Regions from separate parts of the Homo sapiens genome. Here region 1 is linked to region 2. A link means that fine-mapping ties the variant in region 2 to the expression of a gene that starts in the linked region. Tissue or cell type: blood mononuclear cells. Region 2 holds a variant in brackets; the other region holds the start of a gene. All regions are shown on one strand. Distances are between the middles of the regions.

Evidence for each region. PIP is the estimated chance that this variant, and not a neighbour inherited with it, causes the effect.
Region 1: it holds the start of ARHGAP25, and the variant in region 2 is fine-mapped to the expression of ARHGAP25 in blood mononuclear cells (TOPMed, PIP above 0.99). The same link has a PIP of 0.9 or more in whole blood.

The regions. Positions count from the first base shown.
Region 1 is chr2:68,732,381-68,737,533 of GRCh38, reverse strand. ARHGAP25 (Rho GTPase activating protein 25) reads right to left here and starts at 2,723. Exons shown (of 11, transcript NM_001007231.3): 1 at 2,274-2,723. The coding sequence starts at 2,334.
Region 2 is chr2:68,761,707-68,766,859 of GRCh38, reverse strand. The region is part of intron 1 of ARHGAP25 (Rho GTPase activating protein 25); the gene reads right to left. It overlaps LOC105374790 (a long non-coding RNA gene), which reads left to right and starts at 4,190. Exons shown (of 3, transcript XR_940225.3): 1 at 4,190-4,254. The variant G/A (reference allele first, on the strand shown) is at 2,510.

The sequences.
Region 1 (5,153 bases), 29 kb after region 2:
TATTTGTCACAACTGGTAGTGGTAGGGGGGTGTTACCATCACCTAGAAGGTAGAGGCCAAGGATTCTGCTAAACATCCTATAATTCACAGGACAGGCCCCACAACAAAAAACTATCCAACCCCAAATGTCAATGGTATCTAGGTTGAGAAAACGTTAAAACCACAGATTGTCAGCTTTCCTGACATAACTCCCAGTTCCACAGGTCTTCCCAATAGAGGTAAGTTTCTTTGATATATTGGTAAGCCAGTTCCTACAGTTACACCTGGACACAGGATGCTGGAGAGGGGACTGGAAGTCCTGTGACTGAGTCAAGGGCTCTCCCCCATCAGAGGACTCAGATTATGATCTGAATTCTAGTTCATGTGACACTTATAAATGCATCCTACTGTAGTCCAGTCCTTCAGGGTGACAAACTTATAGATAGCATGGATAATGACAAGGGCTCCTCTGTATTTCATTATGTCCTTATTATTATTTTTTCATTAAGTAATACTAAATAACATCATCTGCTTGTTTTTGTTGGCTGAAGCATTCATTCAGCCAACAAATATTTATTGTGTGCCCAGTTAAGAACAAGCACTGTGCCCTATACTAAATGGGTGAAAACTGTCTGCTGGGGCTAGTGAACATAGACCACAGTACCTACAGCAGGAATTCTTCCTCAGGTGAGGATGAAAGTGGGGGGTGCTTGTCAAAATGCAGGATCCTGGGCCTTCCTCCAGAGATTCTGATTTTGTAAGGATGGTGCCCAGAAATCTGCATTTTTAGCCAGCACTTGATGTGAGTCTGATATAGGTTATCTATGGGACCATGCTTTAAGAAACATTGGTAAAAATCATGAAATTCACTCAATCAAATCCCAGACCTGAGTATATGCAGTCTTGAGCTCTAGTGTGGTAATTTCCTATATCTGTGAAAAAAATCATTTAACTATTAATTGTCTCAACTTTCTTGTTTTTTAAACCAAAGGAGAGTAAGACCCTAATAACCTGTGTTCAAACATAGGTGGAGAGAAGGCAGAATGACCTTATTTATGTAGAAGCAGGACACTTTCAAAGGAACAGAACCATATAATTTGTATGACATAGATTGAGCATTAGCCAAGTACATTTGTATCAATGATAGTTAGGAGGAAAATCTCTTGCTTTTGTAAGAGGTATGAACATTACCTTTTCTCTGAACTGACCTCAGCATACAATCATTCACAGCTTGATTAGGGAACGCTAATCTCCCCTAGTTATCAAGATAAATGGCTTCTCTGATTACTCTGTTTTCTTTCAAACCCTTTCTCAGACCTACATCATTAATGCTCCGCTTGTGACTTTTCAATGGAGCACTTATTTTAGTAGCACACTTAACCCCATTAGAGGTTCAAATCTAAACCTTTTTCCAAGCAAAATTCCTCCAAGCTGTTAGAAACACCTTAATACTTATCTATATCTAATATCAAGGAAGTTATCTCATGTATGGGTGAGATACATAAATGTAGGCAATAGTTTTCAGCCCGATTGCTCTGATGTGAATTACTGTGACCAATTTAGCAATAGAAGAAATCTATGTAAAGAACTTCATAACGAATATATAGATTAAACTTAATGTATCACTATCATCATTAGAAGGACAGGGTATGGATTAAAGGCCAGACTATCTCAGAAAATATGCCAGTCTCCCTTAAAATAATAAAAAATACATCTCTTTTCCAACTCATCTAAGAATTCCCTCCCATTCTGTTCCTTTAATTATATTTTTATTAAGTAAGGTCTTTATTATACTTTAGTACGTTTTTATGTTCCTGTCTTGTTTTTGTTGTCTACCTTTTGCTACTACCTTTTAATACACCTTGACTCCTGGGCTCACAAAACAGAACACCCATTGAATTTACTTACAGATTGAGCACTTCAAAAGACTCTAGTCTTTGTGCTCCTGTTCAGAACCATTCAAAATATGGATGAGTTTCCAAACAGGAAGGAAATGGAATATGCTAAAAACTCACAGTTTTGTGTGTAGTCTGTAGCCTTAAATCATCCGAAGTACCCCAGATCCTGCACACCAAGGAGTGCCATCCCACTGTTTTGTCCAAATGAAAGAGAACCCCCTCCCAGCATTTTAGAACTTGGACCTGGCATGCCAACTTAAATGCAAATGGTCCCTCAAACTCAGATTTGCTGCGAGATCCATTTTTAAGTAGACTATGCTCCCTGCAGACCAACATGCAAATGGTGCTCGAGTATACGTAAGAATCACAGAGGCAACGAAAAGACACCAACCATACCTATTTTCGCAGCCTCCACTTTCAGGTTGAAATCCCAGTTCCTTGGCAATTTTAGGGACATTTTGCTTCCAGTTTAAGTGAGTAGTTAGTGAAGCGGTGAGTCTGTCACAGTTTGCGCCCTTCTTGTCTTTTCACTCTTTCCCTCTGTTTTTGTGTCTGTTTTTGTTCCTCCTTATGATTGCTTCACAAGCAATCTTAGGCTTGAGGCTGATTTGCCAACGTGTCTCCTCCTTTCTCTTAGATGAAAGGTCCATCCATCTGTCACTGGAGGATGGCACCCAAACTCCCCCAGCCTCCACCCTCAGTCCCACAGGGGCTAGCACCCTGCTTTTCTTGCTTTCAGTTTTACCAGAAATATCCCAGTTGACACTTCCCTCTGCGTCATGGGAAGCAAAGCTCCTTTTCGAAAGAATCTCAGGCCTTACTGAGTTGAGGTCGTGATAAACAACTGCTGCCTCTTGGTTTTGTGTGTGTGTGTGTGTGTTTCTTTTTTAACTGTCTGCTTCCTTGCATTTGAGGAAGTGGGTGGCTGTTCAGTGAAGATGATACATTATGAGCACTCTTTCTTGAGAAAATGGTTTTTGGAAATGCTTGAAAAACCAGAATGGTTGCTTCTGTTATAAAAGATTACAGTTTTAATTAGAAGAAAATGTCGAAACTCCCATCATCTACTTCAACTCTAAGCTCTCCTCTTCCTCACCTAACGGATCAAGCATCCAAAAATGGTCAGAAAAACAACAAGCATTCCCCCAAAGTTATCTTCTTTTAAATTCTTCCTGCTGTAAGGACCATGTCGCAAGCTCTCCAGGTGCTCAGGATAAAGTTTGCAAGTGATCTCAGCCTGATGTAGGGAGGGTTTTGATGTATTTGGCTTAATGAAGCAACTTAAGCTAGGTCGACCCACTCACATATCCTAAGGGTTCTTTGGCATTGTACACAGGGTGTGGGCTTTAGAATCAGGGTGTGTGGGCTGTATACATGGTGTGGGCTTCCATTTGCTAGCTCTTCAACTTTTGAACAAGCAACTGAATCTTTCCAGACCTTAATGTCCTCATCAGTAAAATGGGGTTGATAATAACCACAACTCAAAGGGTTTTTGCAGAGGAATCTAGTGCAGAGCTTGACACAGAGTGGTTGCACCACACACATTAATTCAACCTTTATTCTATTCTATTTAGTTCAGTTCTGTGACAAGCTTTCATGTTTAACTGGGTCAGCCTAACCTAGTGCTTAAGCATTTGGGCCCTGGAAACAGATCACTGGTAGTCAAATCCTGGCTTTCCTGCTGTGGGACTATGGACAAGTTTCTTGACCACTTTGTGCTTCAATTCTTATCTGTAGATGGGGCAAATAATAGGGCTTACTTCATAGGCTGTTGTGAGGCTTTAGTAGAAAAGCCAGTACAAAGTGCTCAGAACAGTCACTGCTAGCCAGCATCTAAGCTGCACGCCTTGCTCCATTCATTCTCCAACTCTCCTAGATGACTCTGTCATACTTTCTTCTTCACCTGCCACTTGCTTACTCTTACTGACGACCTGGGTTCCCGTTTCATTGAGAAAATCAATGTAACTGAAAGAGAATGTCCACAAGCTTCCCTCACTCTATCTGCTCACCTACCTGCATGCAAGCTGTATCCCTGACCTTATTCTTGGTACAATGGGTGAACTGGCTGTTAACACTCTCCCATCCCTATTGCATCATCAATTTCTTCTCTCTCTTTGATCCTTCCTGTCAGCGTTCAAACTTACTATTTTTTATCCCATAAAAAATCTCTCTGGATGCCACCACCCCCTTGGGCTAGAGTCCCATTTCTCTCCTTCATTTCTGAACCAAGCTTTAGTAAGAATTGTCTAACTTGCAAATATCTCTCCTCTTATTCTCTCCCGAATCCCTTGGTTGATGTTTTTGCCCCTATGACTCCACAAAATATATTCTCATCAAGGATACCTACGACTTCCCTGTCACTAAACTCACAGGTCAGGGCTTCATCTTCATCTCACGGGCCCATCAGCAGTGTCGGACACATTTGATAGCTCTCTCCAACTCTGAGCCCTCTGTCCATGGGGCTCCCACGGCCCATGGTTGGCCTGGCTGTCTGCCTGCCTTTCTGGCTTTTCCGTGTCTGTTTTCTTGCTGATTCCTTCTCATCTCTCTGACCTCTAAATATTGAAGGAAACCAAGACTCGACTGGACTCTTTTTCCATCCACACTCACACCTTGGTGAGCTCATCTGTCTCAAGGCTTTAAATGTCACATATTTGCAGATGATTCCAATGTGTATTTCCAGCCCAGACCCCCTGAACTCCAAATCACATGGATCTCTGCTTAGATCTATAGTAGCCATCTCAAACTAAATGTATCCAAACTGTATATCCAGAGAACGAGGCTGAAGGAACAGTGGTGACCTGGTGTATACTCCTGTCTTCAGGAATGAAAGGAGCACAAGAGAGAAGAACCTTGCAAGCGCATTTAACGCCTCTGCGCACACCCTGTCTGCTCACATTCCATTGGCCAACACAGGTCACATGGCCAAGCTCAAAGTCAGTGAGGCCGGAAGTACACCCAGTCCTCAGCAGCAGTGGGGAGGGAGAAGGGCCGGAGGGGTGGAAGAAGGGCCGGAGTGTTTGCTGATCAAGACTCCAATCCACCACACTCACCCAGTCTACCCAGCTACCCTCCAGCCTCCCCAGGGAGCTGGATTCCGCTGAACTTGACTCAGCTACTTGGAGACATTGCACTACTGCCTGCCTGACCCAAACACCACTGCTCTTTTTCGTATCCCAACTTAATTAAGCGGGTGTGAGAGAGGTAGCTGTCTGGCCCGGCCCAGCAGCATCTCCACGGGGGAATTCGACACCATCTAAAATTTCAGTCCTGGGA
Region 2 (5,153 bases):
TAGCAATATGAGACAGAGGGAGAGAAATTATCTGTGTGTGTGAGAGAGAGAAAAAGAGAGAGGGAGAGAGAATGACAGAGAGTGAGAACAAGAGAGAGGGAGAGAGAATGACAGAGAGTGAGAACAAGAGAGAGAGAGAGAGAGAAGGGGAGAGAGAGAGGAGTACTGGCTTTCTGTTACTTCTTTCTTATCAGCAGCTCTGGAAACCTGAGCCAGCAACAAATATTGCAAGGTTTTTTTGCACGCCAGCAAATTTGTTTCACCTAGGGTGCCTCTCCAGGGCCACCCCTCCAGTGTTCATGTTTTGTGGCTTTCGTGTTTCTTAGGAATTTAGAGTGCAGTTGCCTCTTGTGGGTCTGTGTGTCTCCATCAGTTGCAACACCTTACCCAGCCCTCTCCGCCTGTCTCTGCATAACAGGAAGCCACGTGTAATAACAAGAAGCTTGCGGAAGAACACTGCCCCAGAGCTGCCTCTTCCTCAGCACAAGGCAAAGTGGAGATTTGGCAATCAGAGGGCAAATTTTCTCTGTAGAAAATTCTTTGACAATGTAGCTGGTTAACTGCATATGCAAGCTACCTGCTTTCCCAGGCGTTAGTGTAAGGAAGAACAATTCTCATCAGGTAGGACTGCAGGATAATTAGTGCAGTAAGCTCTGCCCAACACCCTAGTGGTGTGTTACATTAGGAAGAGCAATCGAAGTACTGACCCCTCCATTGCCAAAGCTAGTCATTTATTTTAGGTAAGAGGTTTTGGTTCACTAGTCACTAGCATTCATAAATAAATAAGTGCATTAGGATGCTTGAAATATTTGTATTGCATAAGCATGGATGAATTATATGGCCTGAGTAATTCACAGGAAGGACCCTTCCAGGGCAATGCTCAAGTACTGGCAACTACCATCAAGCACTGGCCCTTGAGGAGGCTACAAGCCATTACAGCCTAACAGACGTCACTCCAGTCAGTTTCTGGGGCCTCTACAGGTCTTAGGGAACAGTGATTTTAAACTTTAACACTACTGAGAGTTAAAGTGACCAATGAATAATGCTAGCAGTGGGGTGGGCCCAGGAAACGAGTCATAATATGTTTCTCCTATTCTACAACCTGATAAAAAGATTTCATTAAAAACTGAGACAATTTGATCATGGATAAAGGATAGATGATACCAATGAATTATTGATTAGTTTTGTTAGGCGTGATCAGGACAATGTGGCTAGAAAATAAAATTTCCATATTTTTAAGGATGCATACTTAAGCATGGGGAAAATGTGTCTGGGATTTGTTTTAAAATATCTTAGCATAAAAGGGAATAAAAGAAAAAGAAAGGGATAGATAAAACAATGTGACGAAATATTCTGTTGAACTTCAGTAGTGGGTCTACATGGGGGTTCATTATATTTTCTCTGTTGTGTTTGGAATGTTGATATAATAAATGATCTTTTTAAATATTTTATTAGGCTTAAAAATAAATTCAATAGGCTTGTTGGGTTTTTTTTTTTTTACATGTCAACTATTGCTCTAAACTTCAACTTGTCTATTTTCCAAGGTCTGCATTTCAGACCTGTTACTCCTCAGAGCACAGCGGAATGACACTACACAGATGTTATACCACTTACGTACACATTCCCTCCCAGACAGATCCGCCTCCATATCCCTGCACTGTCACTTTATCAGCTGATGAATGGGAAGAACTGAGGGACTTACTGAGGCTGCCAGTATGGATAGTATTTCCTGTAAAGTCAGCTTTTACCCCAACACTTACTGGCAGAGAGAGAGAAAGGGCAGCAGAAACCGGAGGGAGCCCAAGGGTGGTCTGTGAGGGAACTCAGGAAGGAATGACCACCTAGAATTCTAGGTGACCTCATGGCAAGAGCTTCCATTTCCAAATTTCCATTAAAATGACAAAGGGACTAGCTCAATAATAACAAGGGGAGATCTAAAATGAAAGTAAAAGTAAAGAAGGATTCTATCTGCATGCCATTTGGGGGGAAGACGGATTTCTGCAAGATGTAGGATAGGCAAGGCTAAACTGAAGAAAGCTGTTGGTCTCACAACTCAATGCATATGGAACAGCCTGCCCCAGAGGGAGCGGAAAGGGCCCAAGAAAATCCTGCACTAACAACACCTAGAGAGGAACAGCAGCAGCATGGAGGCAGGGAACAGATGGAGACCTGAGAGCTCCTTCCAAGTGCGCACAGAGGTCTGGCTGGGGCATGTTATTTCCAGTTTACCCTGGGTGCCCAAAGTCAGGCCAGACAAAAAGTAACAGCTCTGTCCTGCTGGCTCCTCAACCAGGTCACGATACCAGTGAGAACAGAGGGTGCCTGTCCACCTAACCTGGAGCTACACAAGAAGAAAAACAAGAAGAAAATGAACTTTCCTTCAACAGAGAGGGTAGCTACCCTCCCTTAACCCCTTAACTGGATGCGTCTTAAAAAGTTACACATAAGCTTGCCATAGCACCCAGCAATTCCACTCCTGGGAATCTATTCAGGGGATGTGAAGGCACAC[G/A]TCCATAACAGTTTTTGAATGTGAATGTTTCTAGCAGTATTATAGATGATGGTCAAAACTGAAAACAATCCAGAAGCCACAAACAGGTTACTGGATAAACAAAATGTGGGAAAGCCAAACAGCGCAATACTACTTGGCAACACCAAGGAGCAAAGGACTGATTCATGCCACACAAAGAACCTCAAAAACATTCAGCTAAGTGAAAGAACCTGAATGCAAAAGACAACAAATTATATGAGTCTGTGCATAAGAAATATCCAGAAAAGGCAATTCTGTAGAGACAGTGGTTGCCAGGACTGAGGGTGAGAGCAGGGATTGATTGCAAAACGGCTGGAGAGAACTTTTTGGGGTAATAAAAATGTCCTAAAACTGGACTATGGTAATCATCACACAACCCTATAAATTTACTAAAAATCATTGAATTGTATACTTACAATGAAGGAATTTTATGGCATATAAATTATACCTCAGTAAAGTTTTTAAAAGAAAGATTAGAAACTAAATAATATATATAACTGCCATACACACAAAAAACCCACCATGGAAACAGTGAAGAGTAGAACAGTTTCTGCAGAAAAAATGAGAATAATTTTCTACACTTTTTATGTGGTGAAACATGCCAGAAACTCTGCAGAGTTAGAGATTTTTGACTGTTTTGTCACTCAAATGTCTGGAATATTCCAGGAATGCAAGAATACTTCAATATTTAAAAAACTAGTAAATGGTTTAGCCCATCAATAATTTAAAAAGTCTTATGTTTTCAAAGATTATGAACTTGCTTTTGATAAATTCAACATTAGTTTATATTAAATGTTAGTTATAAAGAACAGAAGATCACATTCTTAGGTGTTAAAGTGTATCTCAAACCGAAAAAAGGGGAGGGAAGAATTGAAGGAACGCTCTGTATTGCTGAAAATGCAACTACAGAAAATTGGAAGAATTAAACATTTTTAGGATTCAGGCCAAATATTTGCTTGGTGTTTTAACTGTATATGGAAAAATGATGAAGTACAGCAGAGAATCTTCAAAGAAACAGAAAATGACACAGCAGAATACTTCTGATACTTCTACTGTGTCATATAATTGAGAGCTGTGAAGTTTATGAAAATTTTCACTGCTGTGACACTTTGCAATTTTGTTAAAGATTTTTTAGAGTTTGATAAAGAAAGCATTCTAAAATTCATGAAAGATGATCAAATACAAAAAAGCCAACATCATTGTCTTGGTTACAGCTAGTGACTTGTGAAAAAGTATCGAGATTTTACTTTTTCATAAAATTTTATTATTTATCAGCATTTCTATCAACTTTGGGCTACACTTCATGATGCTTGAGTAAGGCTTTGCAGAATGCAGTATTTTCCCTGTGATTCAGCCACTGACATCTGGTAGTTCTGTTTCCTCTTCAAAGCTGTCAAACATTATCAGCTGCCTGAAAAATGTGTTAGGGGGTTTCCCTTTTATCACCCAAGGTCCTCACAAAAATGTCAGGACTTATTTTGTATGTATCTGTGAGCAACTGTAGTGTTTCTGTCTGACCTGGACTTTCTTGGCCCACACACTAGCCTCTGCTTGACATTTCTTTTTGGCTGGCCACTCCTTCACAGTTCTCATGGAAGAACTAGAAGAACACCATTTTTGTTTCTTTTTTCTTTTTCTGTTTGTTTTTAGCCAGTAGTCACTGAAGGACCAACTAAGCTTTTGTGCAAAGGCTGAAGAAGCAGGAACCAGAGATGCACAAACAGGAGGTAAAAGAAGGAGAACCATGAGGGGGTGACTCAACAGGCTAACACCGGGACCCCAGGATGCGGTCCTAATTCCAAATCCCTCTGGCTTAGCACATCTAATAGCATACGAGAGCTTTTGAAGATGAAAAATGAGTTGTAATATTTGACTTGGGCTATTTTTCTCAAATTATAACTTGCGTGATTTATTTTTTCCCAATTATTTTTATTCCAGTAAAACACACATAAAATTTACTATCTTATTTTTGATTGTACAGTTCAGTAGTATTAAGTACATTCACATTATTGCACAACCATCACCATCCATTTTCAGAACTCTTTTCATCTTGAAAAACTGAAATTCTGTACCCATTACAGAGTTAACTTCCTTTTCCTTCTTTCCCTAGCCCTGGTAACCACCATTCTACTTTCTGTCTCTATGAATTTGTCTCCTCTAAGCACCTCACATAAGTGGAATTATACAGCATTTGTCTTTTTTGAAGCAGCTTATTTCACTTAGCATAATGTCCTCAAGATTCATCGGTGCTATAGCATATTGCAGAATGTCCTTCCTTTTTAAGGCTGAATACATTCTATTGAATGTATATACCACATTTTGTTTGTCAGTTCATTTGTCAATGGACACCTGGGTTGCCTCCATGTTTTAGTTATTACAAATGATGCTGCTATGAACGTGATGTACAAATATCTCTTCAAGACTCTGTTTTCAATTCTTTGAGTATATATTTAGATGCGGAATTGTGGGATCAGATAGTAATTCTATTTTTAATTTTTTGTGGAACTGCTATACTGTTTTCCATAGTAGCTGTAACATTTAACATTTCCACCAACAGTGCAAAAGGGTTTCAATATCTCCACATCCTCACCAACATTTGTTATCTTCCAGTTTTTTAATAGCAGCC